Linked DNA regions of Homo sapiens. The protein of the gene in region 4 purifies or fractionates together with the protein of the main gene of each other region. This does not show direct contact. Each region holds a gene or a part of one and is shown on either strand. Other genes may lie near its edges.

What was found.
Region 1: the proteins of EPN3 (region 4) and PLEKHA7 purify together in Homo sapiens (co-immunoprecipitation; one large-scale study listed by IntAct). This does not show direct contact.
Region 2: the proteins of EPN3 (region 4) and BTBD1 purify together in Homo sapiens (affinity purification with mass spectrometry; 3 studies listed by BioGRID and IntAct, with this or other methods). This does not show direct contact.
Region 3: the proteins of EPN3 (region 4) and KCTD10 purify together in Homo sapiens (affinity purification with mass spectrometry; 3 studies listed by BioGRID and IntAct, with this or other methods). This does not show direct contact.
Region 5: the proteins of EPN3 (region 4) and KCTD3 purify together in Homo sapiens (affinity purification with mass spectrometry; 3 studies listed by BioGRID and IntAct, with this or other methods). This does not show direct contact.
Region 6: the proteins of EPN3 (region 4) and VPS39 purify together in Homo sapiens (affinity purification with mass spectrometry; 3 studies listed by BioGRID and IntAct, with this or other methods). This does not show direct contact.
Region 7: the proteins of EPN3 (region 4) and ZFTRAF1 purify together in Homo sapiens (affinity purification with mass spectrometry; 3 studies listed by BioGRID and IntAct, with this or other methods). This does not show direct contact.

The regions. Positions count from the first base shown.
Region 1 is NC_000011.10:17,004,415-17,007,914, reverse strand, and holds part of PLEKHA7 (pleckstrin homology domain-containing family A member 7), read left to right. Parts: intron 1-3,500. UniProt on the Homo sapiens protein: Required for zonula adherens biogenesis and maintenance. Acts via its interaction with CAMSAP3, which anchors microtubules at their minus-ends to zonula adherens, leading to the recruitment of KIFC3 kinesin to the junctional site.
Region 2 is NC_000015.10:83,019,088-83,022,252, reverse strand, and holds part of BTBD1 (BTB/POZ domain-containing protein 1), read left to right. Parts: intron 1-1,490; coding exon 1,491-1,578; intron 1,579-3,165.
Region 3 is NC_000012.12:109,470,801-109,474,300, reverse strand, and holds part of KCTD10 (BTB/POZ domain-containing adapter for CUL3-mediated RhoA degradation protein 3), read left to right. Parts: intron 1-3,500. UniProt on the Homo sapiens protein: Substrate-specific adapter of a BCR (BTB-CUL3-RBX1) E3 ubiquitin-protein ligase complex. The BCR(BACURD3) E3 ubiquitin ligase complex mediates the ubiquitination of target proteins, leading to their degradation by the proteasome.
Region 4 is NC_000017.11:50,539,235-50,542,734, forward strand, and holds part of EPN3 (epsin-3), read left to right. Parts: coding exon 1-81; intron 82-1,012; coding exon 1,013-1,100; intron 1,101-1,558; coding exon 1,559-1,828; intron 1,829-1,994; coding exon 1,995-2,099; intron 2,100-2,229; coding exon 2,230-2,460; intron 2,461-2,609; coding exon 2,610-2,923; 3' UTR 2,924-3,500.
Region 5 is NC_000001.11:215,570,304-215,573,803, forward strand, and holds part of KCTD3 (BTB/POZ domain-containing protein KCTD3), read left to right. Parts: intron 1-3,482; coding exon 3,483-3,500. UniProt on the Homo sapiens protein: Accessory subunit of potassium/sodium hyperpolarization-activated cyclic nucleotide-gated channel 3 (HCN3) up-regulating its cell-surface expression and current density without affecting its voltage dependence and kinetics.
Region 6 is NC_000015.10:42,158,201-42,160,752, reverse strand, and holds the end of VPS39 (vam6/Vps39-like protein), read left to right. Parts: 3' UTR 1-2,052; downstream 2,053-2,552. UniProt on the Homo sapiens protein: Regulator of TGF-beta/activin signaling, inhibiting SMAD3- and activating SMAD2-dependent transcription.
Region 7 is NC_000008.11:144,456,372-144,459,871, forward strand, and holds part of ZFTRAF1 (zinc finger TRAF-type-containing protein 1), read right to left. Parts: intron 1-3,500.

The DNA.
Region 1 (3,500 bases), on a different chromosome or scaffold from region 4:
TAAAAACTGCAATTACTTTTGCACCAACTGAATATCTTTAGGCCGGGCGTGGTGGTTCACACCCAGTAATCCCAGCACTTTGAATGGCCAAAGCAGGAGGATTGCTTGGGCTCAGGAATTTGAGACTAGCCTGGGCAACATGGTAAAACCCTATCTTTACAAAAAATACAAAACTTAGCCGGGTGTGATGGTGCATGGCCATAGTCCCAGCTATTAGGGAGGCTGAGGTGGGAGGATCACTTGAGCTTGGGAAGCGGAGGTTGCCGTGAACTGAGCTCACGCCACTGCACTCCAGCCTGGGCGACAGAATGAGACTCTGTCTCAAAAAAAAAAAAAAAAAGCATCTTTAGAGATCCTAAAATGTAAAATTTTGTTCTTCTGTAGTTTTTCCCTTGACTTGTCATTTAAAAAAAAATAAAATTGCTATTTATGGGCATGGTGGCGAGTGCCTGTAATCCCAGCTACTTGGGAGGCTGAGCCAGGAGGAACGCTTGAACCCAGGAGGTGAAGGTTGCGGTGAGCCAAGATTGCACCATTGCACTCCAGCCTAGGCAACAAGAGTAAAACTCTGTCTCAAAAAAAAAATTTTTTTTTCTATTTAATGTAATTCTACATAAAGAAAAATTAAGTTTAAATTATTAGCATAAATTTTATAGTTATTTCTATATTGTAGAATATAATGTTTTAAATGTGAATATCAGTGCATTTACCTCATATGCTAGGAGTTGCCACCACCATGCCCCACTCCAAGACACCATAGAGCACAAGCACCTGTATCCATGCCCCCCTGGGCAGCAGGGAGGAGCAGGGAGCCCAGGCAGGGCTTAGGGCTCCAGGAGGCTGGGAGTGGGCAGTTAAGAACCTGGTCCTCCGAGGCAGGGAGTGGGGACCAGGCATGAGTCCTTCAGAAGGTTACCTCTGGAGATAATGCCAAGTATCAAGGGTGTGTGTTTTGTATTCAGCAACCCATTTTTTAGTCTGAAATCAAAGGGAGTTGGAGAGTGAAGGATGAACCAAATGTGACAGATGTTCAGTTGGGGATTTTGTAGACACCAGGCCTAGAAGGCCCTTAGGAAAGCCAGTGAATACTGGACAGCCCAGGAGGCTGCCCTTAATTATGACCTCACCCAACCGACAGTCTTCTGGGCCACCCCTAGGAAGGAGTCTGTCCTGTCTTCTATATTTTCCTCCCTAGATAAATGTTGAACTTCATGGCAGTGAAATTTATCTTGTAGAATGTCAAACCTATTGATTCACTTATATATCATCTTCCTTTTTTTTTTTTTTTGAGACTGAGTCTTGCTGTGTCACCCAGGCTGGAGTGCAGTGGCGGCATCTCGGCTCACTGCACCTCTGCTTCCCGGGTTCAAGCGATTCTTCCACCTCAGCCTCCTGAGTAGCTGGGACTACAGGCATGCGCCACCATGCCTGGCTATTTTTTTGTATTTTTAGTACAGATGGGGTTTCACCATGTTAGCCAAGCTGGCCTTGAACTCCTAACCTCAGGCAATCCGCCTGCCTTGGCCTCCCAGAGTGCTAGGATTACAGGTGTGAGCCACCGTGCCTGGACGTTTTTTTTTTTTTTTTAGATGGAGTTTCATTCTTGTTGCCCAGGCTGGAGTGCAGTGGTGTGATCTCGGCTCACTGCAACCTCCGCTTCCCTTGTAGCTGGTGTTACAGGCGCCCACCACCATGCCCGGGTAATTTAGTAGAGACGGGGTTTCACATGTTGGTCAGGCTGGTCTTGAACTCCTGACCTCAGGCTGTCCACCCGCCTTGGCTTCCTAAAGTGCTGGGATTACAGGCATGAGCCACCATGCCCAGCCTTATTTGTCATCCTTCTTATTGAGATGTTGCTGGGAACAGCAGTCCCAGAAACTTTATTTCAAACCTGGGGGTAATAGTCCCACAAAGAATTTCTGGGAAACTAGCAGCTTACATATATACTAAAATAGAAATTCTGAACCCCCTCATTGAAGGTTAAGAAAGGTTTTCCCAGCTTGGCAAGTTTTGGCAGAATCCCATGCTTTATATTTCACTTCCTGGTTGCATTTTCAAGGGTAAAAACTGGTTCATGGATTTAAACGTTAGGTTCTGTGGGAAAGGAAAAACAGTGAGTGTTGTTTAGAAAGCGAAAGGAAGGATTAGGAGCCATGATTTATACCACATCTCCAAAAAGAAACTTCTTTAAGGAAACGTCTTTAAGAAAAATGGTTGCAAGTTGCTTTTTAAGGCTCTTTACCCATGAGAGGAGTGTGTTTTAGAGATAGGACAGATGCTGGGTTGGGAAGAGGTGTTTTCATGTGATGAGGGTGGGTGTAGGTTTCTTGTGCCTTGATGGCACCCTCTCCATTCTCTCTCTCTCTCTTTCTTTTTTTGTTTTGAGACAGAGTTTTGCTCTGTCACCTAGGCTAGACTGCAGTGGCATGATCTCAGCTCACTGCAACCTCTGCCTCCTGGGTTCAAGCAATTCTCTTGCCTCAGCCTCCTGGGTAGCTGGGATTACAGACACCCACCACCACGCCTGGCTAATTTTTGTATCTTTAGTAGAGACGGGGTTTCACCATGTTGGCCAGGCTGGTCTCAAACTCCTGACCTCAAGTAATCTGCCCACCTTGGCCTCCTGGAAGTGCTGGGATTACAGGCGTGGGCCACCGGGCCCAGCCTCCATTCTCTTTTGATGTCTATGGGAGTAAATTTGGTGCTTCCTAAATTGAGAACTTTGGAAAAAAATTAAGACAGCACTTTAAACAGAAACGTGTGCAGGGGCAGGGAGATGCCAGTTTACCCCCCCCGTTAAGTCTGAGGTGACAGAGGGCTGTAGGAAGACTGCTTGTTGGCTTTTCAGCCTCAATATGTGGAATATTTGGCAATTCAGTGAGGTACCTGCTCTTGTTTTCTATCTTCAGAGGACAGCACAGGTTTGAATCTCTTTGCTCAGTGTAAGACAGCATCATCTCAGCAAACTGGCAGGTATCTTAAGTAAATATTGGCAGAGGGAAAAACACGGAGGAATATGGTTGTATTTGCCTGTTGTTTTTAAATGGCTGTCAAAACATTTGCTTTTCAATTTTCTGAAATGAGAAATATTTTGAGTTAATGTTTTATCATTTACAGAGTATTTCACGAACATTCTCTGGTTTGTCCCATAATTATTGCATTTTTTTAGTGCGGGAATTTGGGCTCAGAGGGGTAAAGTGACTTCTCTAAAGTTGTATACTGGGCTGGGCATGGTGACTCATGCTTGTAATCCCAGCACTTTGGGAGGCCGAGGTGGGCAGATCACCTGAGGTCAGAAGTTTAAGACAAGCTTGGCCAATGTGGTGAAACCTCATCTCTACTAAAAATACAAAAATTAGCTGGGTATGGTGGTGCGTGCCTGTAATCCCAGCTACTCGGGAGGCTGAGGTAGGAGAATCACTTGAACCCAGGAGGCAGAGGTTACAGTGAACTGAGATTGCGCCATTGCACTCCAGCCTGGGCGACAAGAGTGAAACAGT
Region 2 (3,165 bases), on a different chromosome or scaffold from region 4:
GTTAGACTCCATCTGTAAAAAAAAAAAAAAAAAAAATTAAACTAGCAAGGAATGGTGGAGTGTGTCTGCAGCCCAGCTACTTGGGAGGCTGAGGTGGAAGGATCACTTGAGCCCAGGAGTTCAAGCCTGTGGTGAGCCATGATTGTACCACTGTACCCCAGCCTCGGCAATAGAGCAAGACTCCATCTCTTTAAAAAAAATTACATGTTTGTAAGCGTTTAAGGTGATCTTACTGTACCAGATGTTCAAAATAGTACTGTTATCTAGCTTATAGGGCTGTTACGATGACTAAAGGAAATAATTCTGTAAAGAACTGAAGTTCAGTGCCTGGCACACTAGGAAGTACTCATGAAGTGGTATTGATGAGTTAGTATTACTAATAATTGAAGGTGTTGCTGACAATGTTGAGAGTTACTCAATGTAATTTTGCAATGTAAGACATTATAATTATGTCAGATTTTACAGGCTTTTAGTTCCATATGTATTATTATTATTATTATTATTATTATTTGAGAAGGAGTCTCGCTCTGTCACCCAGGATGGAGTGCCGGGTCACCTGCAGCTTCCTTCTCCCAGGTTCAAACGATTCTCCTGCCTCAGTTTCTCTAGTAGCTGGGATTACAGGTGCCTGCTATCATGCCCAGCTAACTGTTATATTTTTAGTAAAGACAGGGATTTGCCATGTTGGCCAGGCTGGTCTGAAACTCCTGACCTCAGGTAATCCACCTGGCTCAGCCTCCCAAAGTGCTGGGATTGCAGTGTGAGCCACCACACCCAGCCTCAGTTCCATATGTATTTAATGTCAGTTTTTATTCATTTACAAAATGGAGTAAGATGGGTCAATATTTCTTAACTATTATGACCAAACTGGACTTGTTAATTATTCTAGTTAGGAAACTGCATTCGAATCCTGTCCCATCCCTCTGCTACCAGTATTCTGTTAGAGTAGCCTACTTCCTTCACAGCTCTTGTTACAATTTGTAATTATTTATTTATTCCTTTCTTGCATTATCAGTGTCCTCCATTAGACTGTATGCACAATGCAGGTAGAAACTGTCTTGTTGACCATTACTTCCGCAGTGCCAAGCCTAGTACCTAAATATGATAAGCCCTTAGTAAGTATTTGTTGAATTGATAATTGTCGTAGTTTGAGATGCTGGGCTTCAGTCCTAATGGCTGAGATGTCTGCGTTCATGAAAAAGATGTACAAATATTTGGACTCGTATAGCACTAAAATTATCATTACAACAAAAGTGGGTATTTAGGTTAAATTCTTTTACAAAACCAATTCTTAGGTTCCTCTTAAGTTCAAATCTGCTCTAGAAAGCTTTTTGGTAAGCAAACAGATGACATTTCCAAGGATATCTAATTTGTTTTCCTTTTTATAAGCAAAACTGGATGTTCCAGGTTACACTTAAAAAAAATTATAACCCTTCAGAATATGAACACATGGGATTAATTATATTTTATTTTTGGCTTCTTTCTCTCAGATTCACAGTTAATAGAAGGATCTCTATAGTTGGATTTGGCTTGTATGGATCTATTCATGGCCCTACAGATTATCAAGTGAATATACAGGTACAGTTTCCTCCCCCACCATATATCATTTTGAAATAACACAAACAGGTAACTTTAAGATATTGTTTTGACAGAATCCAAATTTCAATATAATTGTCAAAGCAATCAGAAGGCCCCTTAGTAGCATTGTAAGCATAAAGAGTTCTGTTTTAGAGTTGATCTAAAAAGTCTGGTTGCAGAAAATTGGGGTCCTTCACAAAAGCAGTAGCATATAAGGAGCTCTTCTTTGTCCAGGAATCCCTTCTATTAGTACTTCCTGCTGTGCAGTCTTAAAACATCCTCCTGCCTTTTTCATGGCCCTTTCAACTCTAGGACTGAAACTAAATTTCTTGTAACTGGTGTGAGCATCCTGTGACTTCCAAGGGGCTGAGCAGACCCTGCTTTATTCTTGGTTACTTTTTTTTGAGACAGGGTCTCACTTGGTCGCCCAGGCTGAAGAGCAGTGGTGCGATCACAGCTCACTTCAGCCTTAATCACCCAGGCTCAAGCAATCCTCCCACCTCAGCCTCCCAAGTAGCTAGGACCACAGGTATGTGCCACCATGCCCAACTAATTTTTCTTTCTTTTTTTTTTTGTCTCGCTGTGTTGCCCAGGGTGGTCTTGAACTCCAGGGCTCAAGTGATCTTCCTGCCTTGGCCTCCCAAGGCATTGGGATTACAGGCATTAGGCCCCTGCTTCTTTTTTTTTTTTTTTTTTTTTTTTTTTGAGATGGAGTCTTGCTCTGTTGCCCAGGCTGGAGTGCAGTGGCGCGATCTTGGCTCATTGCAAGCTCCGCCTCCCGGGTTCACACAATTCTCCTGCCTCGGCCTCCTAGCACTTTGGGAGGCCAAGGAAGGTGGATCACGAGGTCAGGAGTTTGAGACCAGCCTGGCCAACATGGTGAAACCCTGTCTCTACTAAAAATACAAAAAAATTAGCTGGGCATGGTGGTGCATGCCTGTAATCCCAGCTACTCGGGAGGCTGAGATAGGAGAATTGCTTGAACTGGGACCTGGGAGGCAGATGTTGCAGTGAGCCAAGGTCATGCCACTGCCTTCCAGCCAGGGCTACAGAGTGAGACTCCGTCTCAAAAAAAAAAAAAAAAAGACACCAGGCTTCTTGTGTACAAACTGTGGGAGGGCATCAGGATTATAGGTACATTAAAATTATGAAGTATAAATACTGTGAGTAAAATAATAGAAACAGTCTGGGCGCAGTGGCTCAGATCTATAATCCCAGTACTTTGGGAGGCCGATGTGGAAGGATTGCTTGAGCCCAGGAGTTCCAGACCAGCCTGGGCAACAGAACACGATCCCATCTCTACAAAAAAAATGAAAAATTAGGGCTGGGCGCAGTGGCTCACACCAGCACTTTGGGAGGCTGAGGTGGGCAGATCGCTTGAGACCAAGAGTTGGAGATCAGCCTGGCCAACATGATGAAACCCTGTCTCTACTAAAAATACAAAAAAATTAGCCAGGTGTGGTCGCGCACATCTGTAATCCCAGCTACTCAGGAGGCTGAGGCACGAAAATTGCTTCAGCTTGGGAAGTGGAGGTTTCAGTGAGCCGAGACCCCAACACTGCACCCCAGGCTAGGCAACAGAGTGAG
Region 3 (3,500 bases), on a different chromosome or scaffold from region 4:
ACCAATTTTGCTGTCTCCTGCTTCACCTCCCCAGCTTCATTGGTAATGAAATCAAACCTTTGAAACAAGTCAAAAAGCAGGATCCTGGCCAGGCACGGTGGTTCATGCCTGTAATCTCAGCACTTTGGGAGGCCGAGGCAGATGGATCACTTGAGGTCGGGAGTTCGAGACCAGCCTGACCAATGTGGAGAAATCCCGTCTGTACTAAAAATACAAAATTAGCCAGTCGCGGTGGCTCACACCTGTAATCCGAGCACTTTGGGATGCCGAGGCAGAAGGATCACCTGAGGTCAGGAGTTTGAGACCAGCCTGACCAACATGGTGAAACCCCATCTCTACTAACAATATAAAATTAGCCAGGTGTGGTGGTGCATGCCTGTAATCCCAGCTACTCGGGAGGGTGAGGCAGGAGAATTGCTTGAACCTGGGAGGCAGACGTTGCGGTGAGCTGAGATCGTGCCGTTGTACTGTAGCCTGGGCAATAAGAGCAAAACTCAGTCTCAAAAAAAAAAAAAAAAGCAGGATTCCAGTAGCAACAGTGGGGAGAGTCCTCCCTAGAGAGGTTTGCTATGGTGGGGGTCTCTGGTCCACTGCCTCGTGTCCTAAGTTCACTGTAACTTGGGCTCAAGGACACGAATGCTGCCAAAACTTTTCCCCCAAGGGCCTTGCCTACTATTAGGTTGACTGACCTTTGGAGAGGGTGAGCTCTGAAAAGGTTTAGAGCTTTTGTTGCCTAATCTGTAGTCTCATTCTAGATCAGGATGGCTCCTGCCTTTATCTCTTAGTCATGCCGTCTGCCATTAGAGCTGGAAACAGTTTCCAAAGAGAAGATAGTTTGAGACTTCGGGAGCATTCTCAAATCATCATAATTTGAGTGTTTGGAGTGTTTACTCAGAGCTAGGGAGCCCTGTGAGGGAGGTGAGGCTTTTGGCCCTGGACACAGCTACTAAGTGGTAGGGCTGGGGCCTTATGCACAGGTCTAACTCCAAACCCTTAGCCACACTTTACCTCGCGACTATTTTCAGGGCTTTTTGTACTTTTTAAAGAAGGGAGGTGAGGCTGGCCTTTCTCAGCTTATGTATCATAGCTCTCAATCTACTAGGTGTGATGGTCTCTGGGCCAGCCACCACTTGCCCATGTCCTTCACTGGCCCCGTCACTGACTCAACTCCAGCTTGAGAGTGACTGACCCTGATGGGGCTGTGGCATCCAAATCCACAAAATGGAAATAACTATAGCTGTCTTCCAGCATTGTTTGAATTTGTAAAAGGCATGTGGTAGAAATGCAGTGGTCAAGGGACACCGAGGGGCTTTCTGGAGGCATGGAAATGTTCCAAGACAGCTTGATTGGAGTGGGGGCTACACAGGTGCAAGTATTGACCAAAACACATCAAACTGTACACTTAAAGTATACTTCATTATGTGCAAATTATCTTTAAAAAGGTATTGGAAAGCCAAAAAAGGTACAGTCATGCGCACATAATGACAGTTTGGTTAGTGACAGACTGCGTATATAACAGTCCCTTAAGATTATAATGGAACTGAAAAATTCCTGTAGCCCAGTGATAGTGTAGCTGTCATTTCAGTGGTAGCACAACATATTACGTGTTCGTGGTGATGCTGGTGTAAACAGAACTACTTTGCTGCCAGTTGTATAAGTCTAGCACACACAATTATGTACAGTACATAATAGTCGATAATAGTAATGAACTTGATAGATATATCACTGGTTAATGTATTTACTATTAATGGTTATTTTAGAATATACTCCTACCTGCCTTTTTTTTTTTAAGTGAAAACTGTAAAACAGCCTCAGGCAGGTGCTTCTGGAGGTATCCCAGAAGAAGGGATTCTTACGGGAGATGACAGTTCCATGCGTGTTACTGTCCCTGAAGACCTTCTAGTGGGACAGGATGTGGAGGACAGTGATACTGATAATCCTGACCCTGTGTAGGCTAGGCTAATGTGTGTGTATTTTGTAGTTTTGGATAAAAAAGTTTAAAAAGTAAAAAAAGAGAAAAAAGCTTATAGAATAAGGATATAAAGAAAGAAAATATTTTTGTACAGCTGTGCAATATGTGTTTTAAGCTATGTTATTACAAAAGGGTCCAAAAGTTAAAAAAAAATTAAAAAGTTTTTAAAGTAAAAAGTTACAGTAAGCAAAGGTTAATTTATTATGGAAAGAAAAAATATTTTAAATAAATGTAGTGTGGCCTCCCTGTGCAGTGTTGATAAAGCTACAGTAGTGTACAGTAATGTCCTAGACCTTCACATTTACTCACCACTCGCTCACCCAGAGCAATTTCCAGGCCTACACACTCCATTCATGGTAAGTGTCCTATACAAGTATGCCATTAGAAAAAAATCCTTCATATCACATATTTACTGTGCTTTGACTTTACATGAAGTATACTTTATGTACTTTTTTGTCTGTTTCATGATAGGCACCTTCCAAAATGCTAGATCGTTTCCCATAACAAGCATTTATTATATAAAATTAGATCTGAAAGGGGTGCTTAAAAAGTATTTGCATTTTGGGGCAAATTTCCTCAACACACACCCTCACCCATGACCGTAAGCCTTTTCTCCCCCCCTTCGAGGTCTTCACAGTTTTTGGAAACTTTTATTTCCATAAGCTACTCCTGTCATCCCATGGACAAAGGATTTTTCTGAGGGAGGTGGCTGGTCATAACTGTTAGTGTGAGGTCTCTGGGGACTGATTTCAGAGGACAGCTAGAAAGGAGGGGTAACTGCTTCTTCTGGACCTCTTTTGTGTTTGGCATCGGGCAGCAAAGACCCCAGGTGAGCTAAGCCTGAGCTTTTGAAAACATATTTTCTTGTGACTTTTCTTGATGAAAAAGGAACTGTTTCTTGAGAAAACATTTCTTTCCAGGAGGCCGTTCTTTCTCTGTTTCACTCTGCAGGGCCCTGACATGGCAGGTGATATCCAGGCCACTGTTGGGTGCCATGGAGTTGGGGAGAGTTGGCCAGAAGAGTTGGATAACCTTGAATTGAATATTGTCCATGACTGTCGCGTTGCTTCTGCTGTTGCAAGCTGCCTCCCTTTACTCCCAGTCCCATTTACAAAAATAACGTTTGTGTTTTACCAGTTATAGTTGTAGTACCCATTCATTATAGAAAATCTGGAAAAGCTAGACAATTCTTTTTCAGTTTCAGGGAATAGTTCAAACAAGTTATGTGCTGTCAGTGCCCTGCAGCCAAAAAGCACGAGGAGCATACCTGTAGTCAAGCAAAGTTGGGTTTATTTCCTTGTTGCATTGGGGTGGGGAAGAACTGTGGGACATCTCAGAGAAGGGCTGTGGGCTTGTGTTGGGTGATTTGAGAGACAGTTCAGAGAAGTGGGGCTTTGCTCTGTGTTGGATGCTGCTGGGAAGCAGGGCTAATTCTGTGATTGGGTCTCAGTGATTCCTGACTTGAAAGCAGGAAGAATGGAAGGAGGCTAAACCTCTCATTGGTAAAGCAGCAGCTATAACTCCTATT
Region 4 (3,500 bases):
GGGGCCGTGGTCCACCATCAGCGGGACAGAGAGCCTGAGAGAGAAGAGAGAAAGGAGGAGGAGAAGCTAAAAACCAGCCAGGTAGGGAGTGGGCTGCGGTGCTTGGGATGGACAGGGCCTAAGAGATGGACTGAGTATTTGTAAAGAGAGAGCAGAGCAGTGCCTGGCATATAGTAAGCACTGATGTGTTTATTCGATGAAATAGGGGTGGGGGTGTAGCAGCCCTAGTCCCACATTGCATGGGCTGGTGACTGAGTTAACAGCAAAGTGGGATGCAAAAGGTTCCTGATTGGAGACCCCCGGATTCGGGTTCTGGATTTGCTGCCACTTACTCTATGACTTGGGGCATGTCACTGTCATGGCCTCAGTTTCCCCTTCTGCACAGTGTGCTTATTGGATAGTTCCAGCTCTGACATGCTAGGATTATGTGATACTGTCAATCAAGACTAGGGTTGGCCTAAGCACATGGTGCTGAAAACACCTCGGGCTCATGGACATATTTTCTCCGCATGGGGAGTGGGCAGCTGCTGAGTGCAAGGCTGCCCTCCAAAGCTGTCCATGCCACGCCCGGGTGCTGTGGTCTCCTTTCCGTCCATGTTCACTGTGGCCAGTTTCTCTTGGACACTGACCTAGGGAGGTAGGCTGGTTGAAAAACATCTGCCTTTGGCCTTCCTGCCCCTTTCTGCTGGCCTGGATTCTATCCCAGCTCTGCCTCTCCCTGGCTGTGTGACTTCAGGCAAACCCATTCCACCCTCTGTGCGCTGGCTGGCTCATCCATAAAATGGGTACATCATCTGCCCTACCTACCTCACAGGGTTGTTATGAAAATCAGGTACTCTGTGGATGAAGAAACATTATAAACTGTAAAGCACTGTGCAGAGGTGAGGGATCATGAATAGGTATCTGTGGAATGAATAAAGAGAATGAACTGGCATTAGCCTGACAGGTCAGGGCCTGCCCTCCCTCCAGGCCCCGCCCACTTCTGAGCCGCGGCTGCCTCTCCCCTCCACAGTCCTCCATCCTGGACTTGGCTGACATCTTCGTACCTGCCCTGGCCCCGCCCTCCACACACTGCTCTGCTGACCCATGGGACATCCCAGGTGGGCATGCAGGGCTGCAAGAGACTTCCAGGCTGGCCCAAGAGCCTCCTCCTTCCCAGCCACTTGCTGGGCCAAGCACCTCCTCCCAAAATCTGAGTGTCACCGGGCAAGTCACTCACCACCTTGAGCCTCCGCCGCCTGTGGGACAGGCTTTCGTAGTGAGGGCTATGGAGAATGTCTGAAGGGCCCAGCTCCTAGGAAACGCAGCAAAATGTTCTCTCGCTGCACTCACTTGCTCAGCACGCCTGGGAAGGTGGCCTGAGTCGCCCACACCTGCAGGTCCCAGTTCCTGGGGTCACTTGTCAAATAGGGGCTCCAGCCTGCTGGGTGGTCCTGAGGCTGCAGGCCATCTGTGACATGGATCTTCTGCCTCCCAACTTGGGCTGGGTAACTGGGAAGGGCCCTGGGCGAGGGATAAGGGTGGGCCTGGGATCATGTCTATGCTGTTCCCATTTCAGGTTTTAGGCCGAACACAGAGGCCAGTGGATCCTCCTGGGGGCCTTCTGCAGACCCCTGGTCTCCGATCCCCTCAGGAACCGTCCTGTCCCGAAGCCAGCCCTGGGATCTGACTCCCATGCTCTCCTCCTCTGAGCCCTGGGGCAGGACCCCAGTGCTGCCTGCTGGGCCCCCCACCACAGACCCCTGGGCCCTGAACTCTCCCCACCACAAACTCCCCAGCACTGGGGCTGACCCTTGGGGAGCCTCCCTGGAGACCTCCGACACACCTGGTAAGAAGAGGGCCAGAGAGTGTGAGTGAGGAGCTGGGGGACTTCCAGGCAGGGCCAAGGGGCAGCAGATACTGTTTGTGTTAGGAGGACAGCTTCTCTGGAAAGGGGTCAGACCAACACCTGCCCTTTTTGTCAACCCATCTCCTCTTCCTCTCTCTCTTCCGAGGTGGTGCCTCGACCTTTGACCCATTTGCCAAACCTCCAGAATCCACAGAGACCAAGGAGGGGCTGGAGCAGGCCCTGCCCTCTGGGAAGCCCAGCAGCCCTGTGGGTGAGCAGGGCAAGGGGATGGTGAGGCTCTGGGGAATGAGGGGCCCACCCCGAGCAGCCTCTGTCCTCTTCCTCCCACGTCGGGCGCCAATCCCTTTCCCCACCAATTAGCTCTAGCATTTCTATTCCAGAGCTGGACCTGTTTGGAGACCCCAGCCCCAGTTCCAAGCAAAATGGCACGAAGGAGCCAGATGCCCTGGACCTGGGCATACTAGGGGAAGCACTAACCCAGCCAAGCAAAGAGGCCCGAGCTTGCCGGACTCCCGAGTCCTTCCTGGGTCCCTCAGCTTCCTCCTTGGTCAACCTTGACTCGTTGGTCAAGGCACCCCAGGTTGCAAAGACCCGGAACCCCTTCCTGACAGGTAAGATATGCCCTTGTCCCTCAACCCAGGGGCTCCTGCTTTCAGAGCCTAGCCTCCGCCGGAGGAGCCCACTCTTCTTCCCAACTTCCACGACCTCCCGGTGTAGGGCTCTGAACCCCGGGTCACTCAAAGCCACTCTCGTTCTGCAGGTCTCAGCGCTCCGTCCCCCACCAACCCGTTCGGCGCGGGCGAGCCGGGCAGGCCGACGCTAAACCAGATGCGCACCGGCTCGCCGGCGCTGGGCCTGGCAGGCGGGCCTGTGGGGGCGCCCCTGGGCTCCATGACCTACAGCGCCTCTCTGCCCCTCCCGCTCAGCAGCGTGCCAGCTGGCTTGACCCTCCCCGCCTCGGTTAGCGTCTTCCCGCAGGCCGGAGCCTTCGCACCGCAGCCGCTGCTGCCCACGCCGAGCTCAGCCGGGCCGCGGCCCCCGCCCCCGCAGACCGGCACCAACCCCTTCCTCTGAGCCCCGCCCCGTCCCATACCGGCCTGCGCCTGCGCCGGACGCTCCGCGGCCCCGCCTCCGGACCCGGGGCTGGGCGGGGCGCCGGTGCTAGTGGAACGCCGAGCCAGTGGCGGCTGGTATCCCGCGGCGGCTCTGGAAGCTGGACGCGGACCACGGCCCGGGAGCTAGAAACTGAACGCCCGCATAATAAAGACTGGAACCCTCGTTCTCAGCTCTCACCAAGTGGACTTTTTGCGGGGTGTGGCGGCCGGGTCTCGACCACAGCGTGGATCACCGGCTGTTTAGGAAACTGCAGCTGCACAACGTGGGGTGCAAAACTGCCCCGCTTCCTTTACAGCTCTTCTCAACCCTCACCTCCATCCCCCGTCACCCAGGCACCTTCGCTTCCAGATGCTGCCAGGCTGTCACTCAATTCGGTCATTTCATTCATTTATCACACATGGGCACTGGGGTTGGGCTAACAGCAAGAGACAATAGGCCTTTGTTCCTATTTATTGGGTACTGCTTACGTGCTAAGCAGATCAGTTTATTTAATGCTTGCAACGACTCTCTGAGGTAGAAAATATTGTTAATTCCG
Region 5 (3,500 bases), on a different chromosome or scaffold from region 4:
TTTATGGTTTAATACTTTGTGGGTGATTCAGAAAGTAGAGTAGATGAAGTTTCATTTAGAATTGTTAGTATTCGTTATTTACAAAAAGTAATGAAGTGAATTCACTATGACTGAATTTATGATTAATTCTGTTATGGGCAAGTGTGATTTTGGGCCTCATGCAAGAGGGCTGGGACTAGCCATTGAGGACTCCTGGACAAAGAGCTTTTGAGTCAGGTATATGTTTCCAATTCCCAGGCTTTATCTCTAACTAGCCTAGCAACCTTGGACAAATATTTTGATACTTAGTCTATTAAAATGTAAAGTGACAGACAGTAGTACCAATCTTATCAGATTGTTATAGGAATTTGAAGTAATAAATGTGAAATGCAAGGGTTAGTGGCATTATCAGTACTTACAGTGCAGAATAAATAACTAGTTAGATTGCTACCAAGTTAATTTAGTAGGAGGCAAGTTGCATGAAGTATAACTGTGGGTATGCAAATTTCTTTAGTCCTTTGCTGAAACCAGATTGTACATGACTCTGTTCTTGGGACACTATGGGTATGGGATAAAAAACAAATCAAAACAGAAAAGGCTTTCAAATGATTATGCTCATCATGTGTAATTTTAAGTGTGTTAGTTTTCATGAAGTTATATTCGAGACTGGTTTTGGGGCCAGAAGTTTAAAAAAAAATTGGTGGGGATGAGGGTCTAATTCCTTTGCCCAGAAATTCCAGGTTACTAACCTTTCCCCAAAATGCTGATTAAAATTGAAACTGATAATATGATTTTAAGCAGACCTTTGTGATTTTCTAAGTAGCACATAATTTTAATTATTTGGAATACAATTGGTGAATAAGTGGTGAATATAAAAGATTGCAAGTTATAAGCTGTCCTCATTTGGAATGAATTTGATGGCCTCCAAAACAGTGAATCTGCAATGTATGAATCCTTGGATCCTTCAATTTACCATTGAGTGGATTTGCTTTGATTTTGGACCAAGTCAGTTTTCTGTGACTGGGGTAATCTGTGTATTTTTTATTTTTCTTAAGAGTCTATTAAGAAACGCATTTAGGAGCATTTGCAGTGTTTTCTTAAAGTGACTCATTTGTTAATCAGATAAATGGGCGTAGGAACTGCTTATAAACACCTAGACTGTCCATAACCTGTGAAATTAGTTAGTAGTCAACTTCTATGTGTTCCCTAAAGTACCCCTTACTGTAGTTTACATTTAAATGTCTTTAATAAATGAATTGTTTTACTGTCTTTCCTTCAGTTAGCCAATGAAAGAATACTTTTCCTTACAAATTGTAAAGTTGTATGTGGGAAGAAGTGGAGATAAACTTTTTTTTTTTTTTTTTCCGAGACGGAGTCTCGCTTTGTCGCCCATGCTGGAGTGCAGTGGCGCGATCTCAGCTCACTGCCAGCTCCACCTCCTGAGTTCACGCCATTGTCCTGCCTCAGCCTCCTGAGTAAGCTGGGACTACAGGTGCCCGCCACCACGCCTGGCTAATTTTTCGTAGTTTTAGTAGAGACGGGGTTTCACCGTGTTAGCCAGGATGGTCTCCATCTGCTGACCTCGTGATCTGCCCGCCTCGGCCTCCCAAAGTGCTGGGATTACAGGCGTGAGCCACCGCGCCTAGCCGAGATAAACTTTTAATTGTGATTGGAAAGCATGTTTTGATAATGATAGAAAATTTATTTTGGAGACTAAGGCACTTTTTATGGAACAGTGCATACACGGCTTCTGCTGTTACTGACACTGAGACTGATACTGCTAAATGATTTAAGTGGGCAGTTTAGTGACATCTGTGTGTCAACACCAGTGTATTCTGAAAGTGCTCTGTTGTAACCATAAAATGCCTGCAGATCGTACAGAAGAATCAAGTCTCCGTTTTGTACAGAACATTTAACTGAGTTTTAGAGTGTGATTCTGTTTATCACACATAAGTTTCAATAAACATTTACTGGGTGTGTGCTAGGTGCTAAGAACAATGCTTTTAGGTGGTCCTCTCTGGCTTTAAGAAAAAACAACATCTACTTTTTTAATACAAAATCCATTTCTGAAACTGAGTTTGAAAAGTGAATTTACAGATAATCCATTTATCAAGATATGTAAAATATTATGAGCCATTGTTGCCTCAGGTGCCTGGATGGACTTGCAAAGTTGAGAGATCTGTGAGACTTCTGACACTACTCTGTATAAGCCTTGGTAGTCACAGTCACCCTGGCCTGCAATCCAGTGCTATTTAATAGCCCACTTAGAAGATGGGAATGGGAAGTAGGATGTATTTTGAGGTTTGTTATGCTGCAGTGAGCATAATAAAAAAAAGTAAGCAACTTCCACGTTTTTGATAATTCCAGGCTGCTAATTTAGGTAATGGCAGACAATAGATGGATGATACAGTGTATACATGCACAGCCTGGGAAACATCCCTTAGCCATTTTGGCTGGGGTTTGGCCTGTGTTTCCTGGTGATAGTGCATGGTAACTAGTGCCACTATTCAGTCACCTTGTTTAGTTTAAGTATGAAAGGTAAAAATAAATTTAGGGATTTCATATAATGCCAGAAAATAAATGTGGAGTGAAAGTAGAGGTTTGCTAGGCTGGGTGAGATAACATTGTAGTTCAAGGTGATATCTTAAAATGAAAATACTCAGAGAAGGGCTGGACTGAACAAGTACTATATTGCTTTGTTTGCCATATCAGTTTACATAAATTATTGGTTTGTTGTCCCAGTCTATTATACTGTACTTTGGTAAAGATCCTCCCTTGGTAATATACAAGCTTGATCAAATGACAACCTCAGAACAGTGATGTATTTGGCTGAATGATTTTTGAATGAATGAAGTCAGCAGTTGCAGATAGCCCAAGACTGCCTATAAAGAAGGTGTTAAATGAGTAATTTACAGTGAAATTACTATGAGCTTAAAAAGAGATAATACAGGATTGGATATTTAGAAAAACTATTACAGGGAAGGTAAAACCTGAGTGGTATCAAGAAAGATGGACGGATCTTGAATTATTGGACATGAAGAGAGTGATCTAGCTGAATAAAGATACCAAAATGGTAGTAAGCATGAATTTTTTGGGGATATGAAGAAGTTTTGTCCTATTAGAGGGGAAAACCAGCATTTGTACTGGAGAGATGAGATGGAACCTGAAGGTAATTTTGAATGTTATACTGAGAAGTTGAGACTTGGTGTGATGGGCTAATTGTTGATTCTTCAGCAGAGATTAGCTTATTGGAAAGTAGTGTTTTAAGATGCATTATATGGCGGATAACAAGTTGTTTATTGTTATTGAGAGCTGCTTGTATAATCTTAACTCTGAATTGAAAGTAGCAACGTTTAAAAATATTAACTGTAATAAATATATTGGTACAGCTATAACTATAAAACATCTTGTAAATCATTAGCCAGTGTATTAAAACAAGTTAACTAATACTGAAATTTCAAATCATGTTCTCACTTATAATACCAGATGATTTTTAATTGCAGATTTAGTACCTCAAGACA
Region 6 (2,552 bases), on a different chromosome or scaffold from region 4:
CCCAGCATCCTGGGGATCCAGCGGATGGACAGCTTGGCTCTCCCAGAGAGGTGAAGGAGCACCTGGCCTTAGGAATCCTGGCTGCCACCACCACAAGGCTCCCCATTTGGACATTACTGGCTATCTTGTGCCCTGGAACAACTCTGAATTAATTAGACTCATGGTCTGGCATTGCCAGCTTTTTAATGGGAAAAGAGATTAGTTATACCTTATACCATTATGTTGTGGGCAATTCCAGAGAATTCAGTACCTGCTTGGTCAGGAGGATGTGCACCATCTTGCCTTTGCACACCAGTCACCTGAACAAGGAAACTTGTCACAAGTGTTTGTAACCATGGGGTTGTTCATCAAGGGCTTTTCTATTAAGTACATGACTTCACAAGGACCGCTCAGCATGGCTCACTGGAGAGTTCCATGAGAGAACAGCACTCAAGCTTCTGGCCGCATGGACCCGATGGCTCGCATTCTGTGTAGTGTTTTACGTCTCCATGGTAACTGTGCCCTGCACCCCTCGGTAGCCGCCCTGTTAGTTTTCAGTCTCCTTTTCTTTCTCACCATTTATCACTTCCCTCACTGCCCTACCCAGGCTTTCTCTCCCACTTCCCTGACTCTGGGAATAACTAATATTTAAGCAAGGTAAGATGAGAAGCAAGGGGTCTCAGTTCTAGGAATACAGTGCTAGTTGATTGTCAGGTATGTTGTAAATAGACCCTCTTTGGCCATACACTCCATGCCTAGATGCCTCGGAGAGCATCATTCTCTGCCTAGGCAAGGCCCTGCATCCCTTGCCTCAGGCCGGGCTGAGTGTGACTGCAGCTCCTGAGGATGGGCCTGCCCTGTCTGGGGTATGCGTGATCCCTAGATACATGTTCCCACAGAGGTGCCTGCTCCGTCTTCGCTCACCAGACACTCAGGCAGGCTGGCTTAGTCTTTGTGCGTGGCGATTTTGTGCTCTGGGCCCTTTCTCTTTTTCCAGCCAGTTTCCATTCACTTGCCTTACAGCCTGCCCTGGCCGTCACTCCCCAGCTTTGTTCAGCAATGGTGTGGTTGGAGAGTTGTGCTGGGATAGCGCAGGAAGGTGGGTCCCGGCAACACGCAGGGGATGAGTGGACCTGGAACTGACAATGGCGTGCTGCCAAGTGTTCCTGAGAGGTGTTTAGGCACAGCAGAGGGGACGCGGGGGGCAAGAACAGCAGGACGCTGGTTTAAAAATAACTCACCGCCAAACCTGTGGAGCAGTGTGGGGCATCCTGCCAGAGGTGCACAGGCTGGAGTTTCAGGCACTGCAGGCTGATGACACACAGGGAGAGTGGCCCTGCCTCCTGTCCTCCCCGGGGTTTTTGCAGACTCGAAGTCTCACTGCACCAGTGTCTTTGATGGTGGTGAGGGTGGGTGATGGTGCCCAGCACCAACAGTTTTAGTGGCCTGTCCTTGACCTGCCGTGGTCCTTTGTAAACTATGGCTCCATGCTGTGTGACAGATCAACGTGCTGATGGTAAGTAGACTAGGCTTCCCCAGGCATGCCGTCCGTGGGGGCCTGAAGAGACAGTGAGTGCCATTGGCCCCATTCGCAGATGTGGGAGACTCTGCTCAGGCCTGTGAGGCTGGGCAGCCCTTCACCAGAGTTCGGAGGAGCAGTGTGTGGCGCCACGTCCCGACTGGCCATACCCACACAGAAGCAGTGCTGCCCGGGGCCTCATCTGGGCCAGCTTGGACTCTGCTTCCTCCAGGAGCAGCAGGGAAGCTCTGGGCCACCTCCCTGGATAGCAGGAACTTGACCTGCCATGTGTGCCCTGCCTTCCTGGCCAGCTGTGCTTGTTATCTTCCATTCTCACAAACTGTCTTTGAAGCAATAGAATAAAGAATGTGTGTTTTCTTTCCTGGTATACATACATGATCCCATGCTCCCAAGCTCCATTCTTCCTTCCCTCAACTCTCTGCCCTCCACAGAGCTATGGAGAAGGCTGGAGATGAAAGCTTTGTAGTGAGGACTGATAAAGATCTCATCACTGCTCCTTATAATAAACCTAATAAAGCAAGAAACCAAGCCTATCTGGGTCTCTTATTTCTCCCTCCCGTGGAGTTTGATGAAAATAACAATGAAAAGATAGTAGTTTAGCAAAGAACTTAGAAGAATAAGCCAATTAGTGACCAAGAAAAAATGAATATAATACTTGCATTACAAATGCCACGTGGTACAGCCAGTGTGGTCATGGCTGATGAGTCAGCAGCACAGATACGGAACACATCCATCATTACAGAATTCTGCGGGACACACTGGCGTCTGGGAGATCCAAGTGTTTTCCCCCATCATGTAGTAGCACCTGGTGCCTCTTCCTGCAGCCCATGATGAAGGAATTGGGATGGAGGGACGCAGAGGTGTTTGGGAAGTGGAGAAGTGTTGGTTCACTTTGGCCAACTCCAAAGAGAAAATGTAGTCCTTGTTGTCTCTGTCCCATCTGGCACTAGGGGCAATGACTTTATTGTGCAGTGGGGCCGATGACTTCCAGAAGAGGATGGTACAGCCAGAAAGACACATCAGTCAGGAGCTA
Region 7 (3,500 bases), on a different chromosome or scaffold from region 4:
GCATCCTTGGCCCTGGCAGCATCTGGCCAGATGCACTTGATTCTGACTTGTGCCCAACACCCAACAGAAGCTGGGCCCTGGAGGGCGCCGCACAGTCCAGGGGATGGCGTGGGCCAAGGCCCCCAAGAGCCCGGGCACCTTCCAGAGCAGCTGCTGTGGCACCCAGGCCAGGCCACCTCTCCCCACCAGCCAGGAAGACCCCAAGGGAGGGGAGAGGAGGGGATCCACAACCCCCCACGACCAAGAATGACGCCATGGGGGATGACATCATGGGCGAGACATCACAGAGGATGATGTCAGAGGGGTGACATCGTGGGAAATTGACATCACATGGGGAATGACATCATGGGGGAGACATCACGGGAATGATATCACGGGATGATGTCACATGAATGACATCACAGGGGGGACATCATGGGAGACTGGCATCACATGGGGGGATGACATCACCGGGGGATGACATCACAGGGGCATGACATTGCAGGGGAATTGCATCATGGGGGGTGACATCACGGAATGACATCACAGAGATGACATCACACTGGCATCATGAGGGAATGACATCACAGGGGATGACATTACGGGGATGACATCAAAGGGAGTATTGACATTACAGGGGATGACATTGTGGGAAATTGACATCATGGGGGACTGACATCATGGGGGGATGGCATCATGGGGGGAATGACACCATGGGGATGACATTAAAAGAGGTATTGACATCACAGAGGTGATACCACAGGGGATGACATCATGTGGTGACAGCACGGGAATGACGTCACATGTATGACATCACAGGGGAATGATGTCATGGGGGAATGACATCACGGGGGAATGACATCACAGGGCCTCCTGGGCCCTCCTAGGGCAGATGTGGGCTTGAAGCCACAGTGCTGGGCTCAGACGCCAGCCCACAGATCCCCAGTAATATGACCTTGGGCTCCCCTCTTGGGGCCTCAGTTTCCTCATGTGCACAGGTGATGAGTATAGGACCAGCTTCATTCTGTGCTGATGAGGTGGGATGGGACAGGGTGGCACTGCCCCACACCCAACAGGCAGACAGGAAATATCACCACCTTGGGCAGCCATGGCAGAGCCCCTGGGGCTGCCAACCCCAGGAGCCAGACCCCAGGCCCCTCTGCAGATGCTGATACACACAGGTGGCCCAGAAATGGCCATTTGCACCTGCATCCTCAGGACAGCACCCAGCCCTCCCCCCTGCTGGCTACAGGCAGCTCACGTGACCCCCATGCAGACCCAGGGTCTCCACCTGAGCTACTTCTTCCCTGGGGTTAAAGGGGAGCTAGATGGGCGGAACAGGCTCAAGGAGCCCTGACCCCATCCCCTGGCTGAGGGCCCCCACGATTTCCTGGTGGTCCCAAGGTCTCTATGGTCAGCTGACCTTGTAGGACCCCTTTCACACCTGGACTGCATGGTTCTCTCAGACCCTGGGGACCTCCTGTTTGCCACTGGAGGATGGCACAGTGCCCAGGCCCATGGGAGCAGTGCCCTCGCTCACCCAGGGGTCAGGGACCCACAGGCCCTTGACAGAGGTCGTCAGAGCCAAAATGCAGCCAAAGGGCTTCCCTGTGGCACAAACCCCAAAAGCGCTGCTCAGCCAGTTGGAGGTCCCCCTTCCTCTGCCATCTGCATGCAGGCAAGGCCTCACCAGGGCCAGTGGTGCTTCAGGGCACACCCCATGCACCCCGCGTGCTCGGCCCCTAACCTCCCGAATCAAACATGGGTCTGAGAGGGACTGGCACGTTGTCCAAGGCCGCACAGCTGTTAAGCATGAAGCCAGGACTCGAACCCTCCACCCAGGCTGGATTTGAAGTCCCTCACCTGCTACTGCTGTCAGACCTCAAACGGTGGCCAATCAATCCCCAGAGTCGGGCCCACATTCAGAACAAGGCTGCTTAGATCTAAAAGTAACTCAAATGATAACCACCACAGAAAACAAAAATTCCAACTAGCCAGAGATTCCAGAACATCTTCCTTGCTCCTGTGTTTTAGATACCTAAGCAGACGTATTTACAAAGATGTTTTCTGCCACTTTCCTCACCTCAAAGAACGAGTCAGCTGCAGTCCTGTACTGCTGCCCAGGAGACTGGGGAAGAGGGGCCCGAAGCTCCTTGGACATGTGGATGGTGACTCCACCCCCCCAGGACTGCACACTGTTGGCCTGGTTGGGGGTGTGGGGCTCGGGCAGAGAGGAGCCATCTCTGCTTCCTGGGCTGTTATCAATGGACTGTCAACATGTGGCATAGAGACATGGGCGCTACAGGCGGGAGGGCCACGGCACACACCAACCCACCCACAGAACAGAGTGGACACACCCTGGTCAGATGGGGCAGGAGGGGATCCTTGTAGCAAGGAGAGAACAAAGTCTCAAAGTGGGGGCGCTGCCTCTGCCGGGCCCAAGAGGTGGGCAGGGGCAGGGAGAGGACACCTCAGGCAGGAGAGCATGGGAATGGCAGGGCACTGTGCAGGGCCGAGTTAGAGGGAGCGGCTGGACCACATCTGTGAGAGGCCCCTGCCCGGCACTTACACCCGAGTGAGCCCGTTTTTGCCTTAAGAATGCCCCATGAGGGGTGGGAACAATGCGCAGTCCCTTCCTCCAGGTGCCAGCACCAAGGCCCAGGGCCTCATCTGACAGCAGCAGGAAGGGTCAGGGCCAGGTCTGTCTTACGCAGCATCACACTGGGCCTCGTCTGAAGGGCCAAAATGGAGGGAGAGAAGTCAGGGATGAGGCTGCGGCTGCAACGTCCCGGGCACCGCTGAGGCTGTCTCTTCCCAGAGGAGGTGCCCCATGGGCAGAGGTGCCAACAGGCCACACTGCCCTCGGGCCGCAGAGCAGGGAGCCGGCAGGAACGACCTGACCACCTGCGCGGCCTGGTCAGGCCAGAAGCTCCTGCACAGGTGTAACTGCTGCCCCACCAGCCCTCCTGCCACCCACCTGAGACTCCAGAAGGTGGCTGCACACCTTGTCAGGCCAGTCCCCCAGAACATATCTAACACCCACACAGAGAACATAAAAGCTGAGTCTTGCTGTACTGGCTGCAGCCCCAACCTGACGTGAGGCAGGACTCGGCGGTGGCGGAAACCTTTTGCATGAGGGCCTCAGTCTGACACCCAAGCAGGTTTCCCAGCCTGTGAGGCATCATCGTACGGGCACAGGCCCATGGGTCAGCTGGCCCTGCAGGCCCAAAGGCTCAGACCTGGGGCACCACCCGAGGCTTCCCTGCCAGCACTGGTGGCATCTGGTATCTGGATGACAAGCTCTCGAGTTACTGAGGACCCAGCCAATTCCAGAGGCCCATGGAGTTGTCCCCCACAGCCCCAGTGCCAGGGAGAACACACAAAGCTCAGCATGGCCACTCCCCTCTTCTCACCAGAGTCAGGGACTGTCTAAGTCAGCCCCCAGCTTGGCTGGTGCCCACCCTGAGCCATGTGTTCTGCTGGGGTCAGGAAAAGCGTTCTAGCAGGAACAGAGGGTGGAA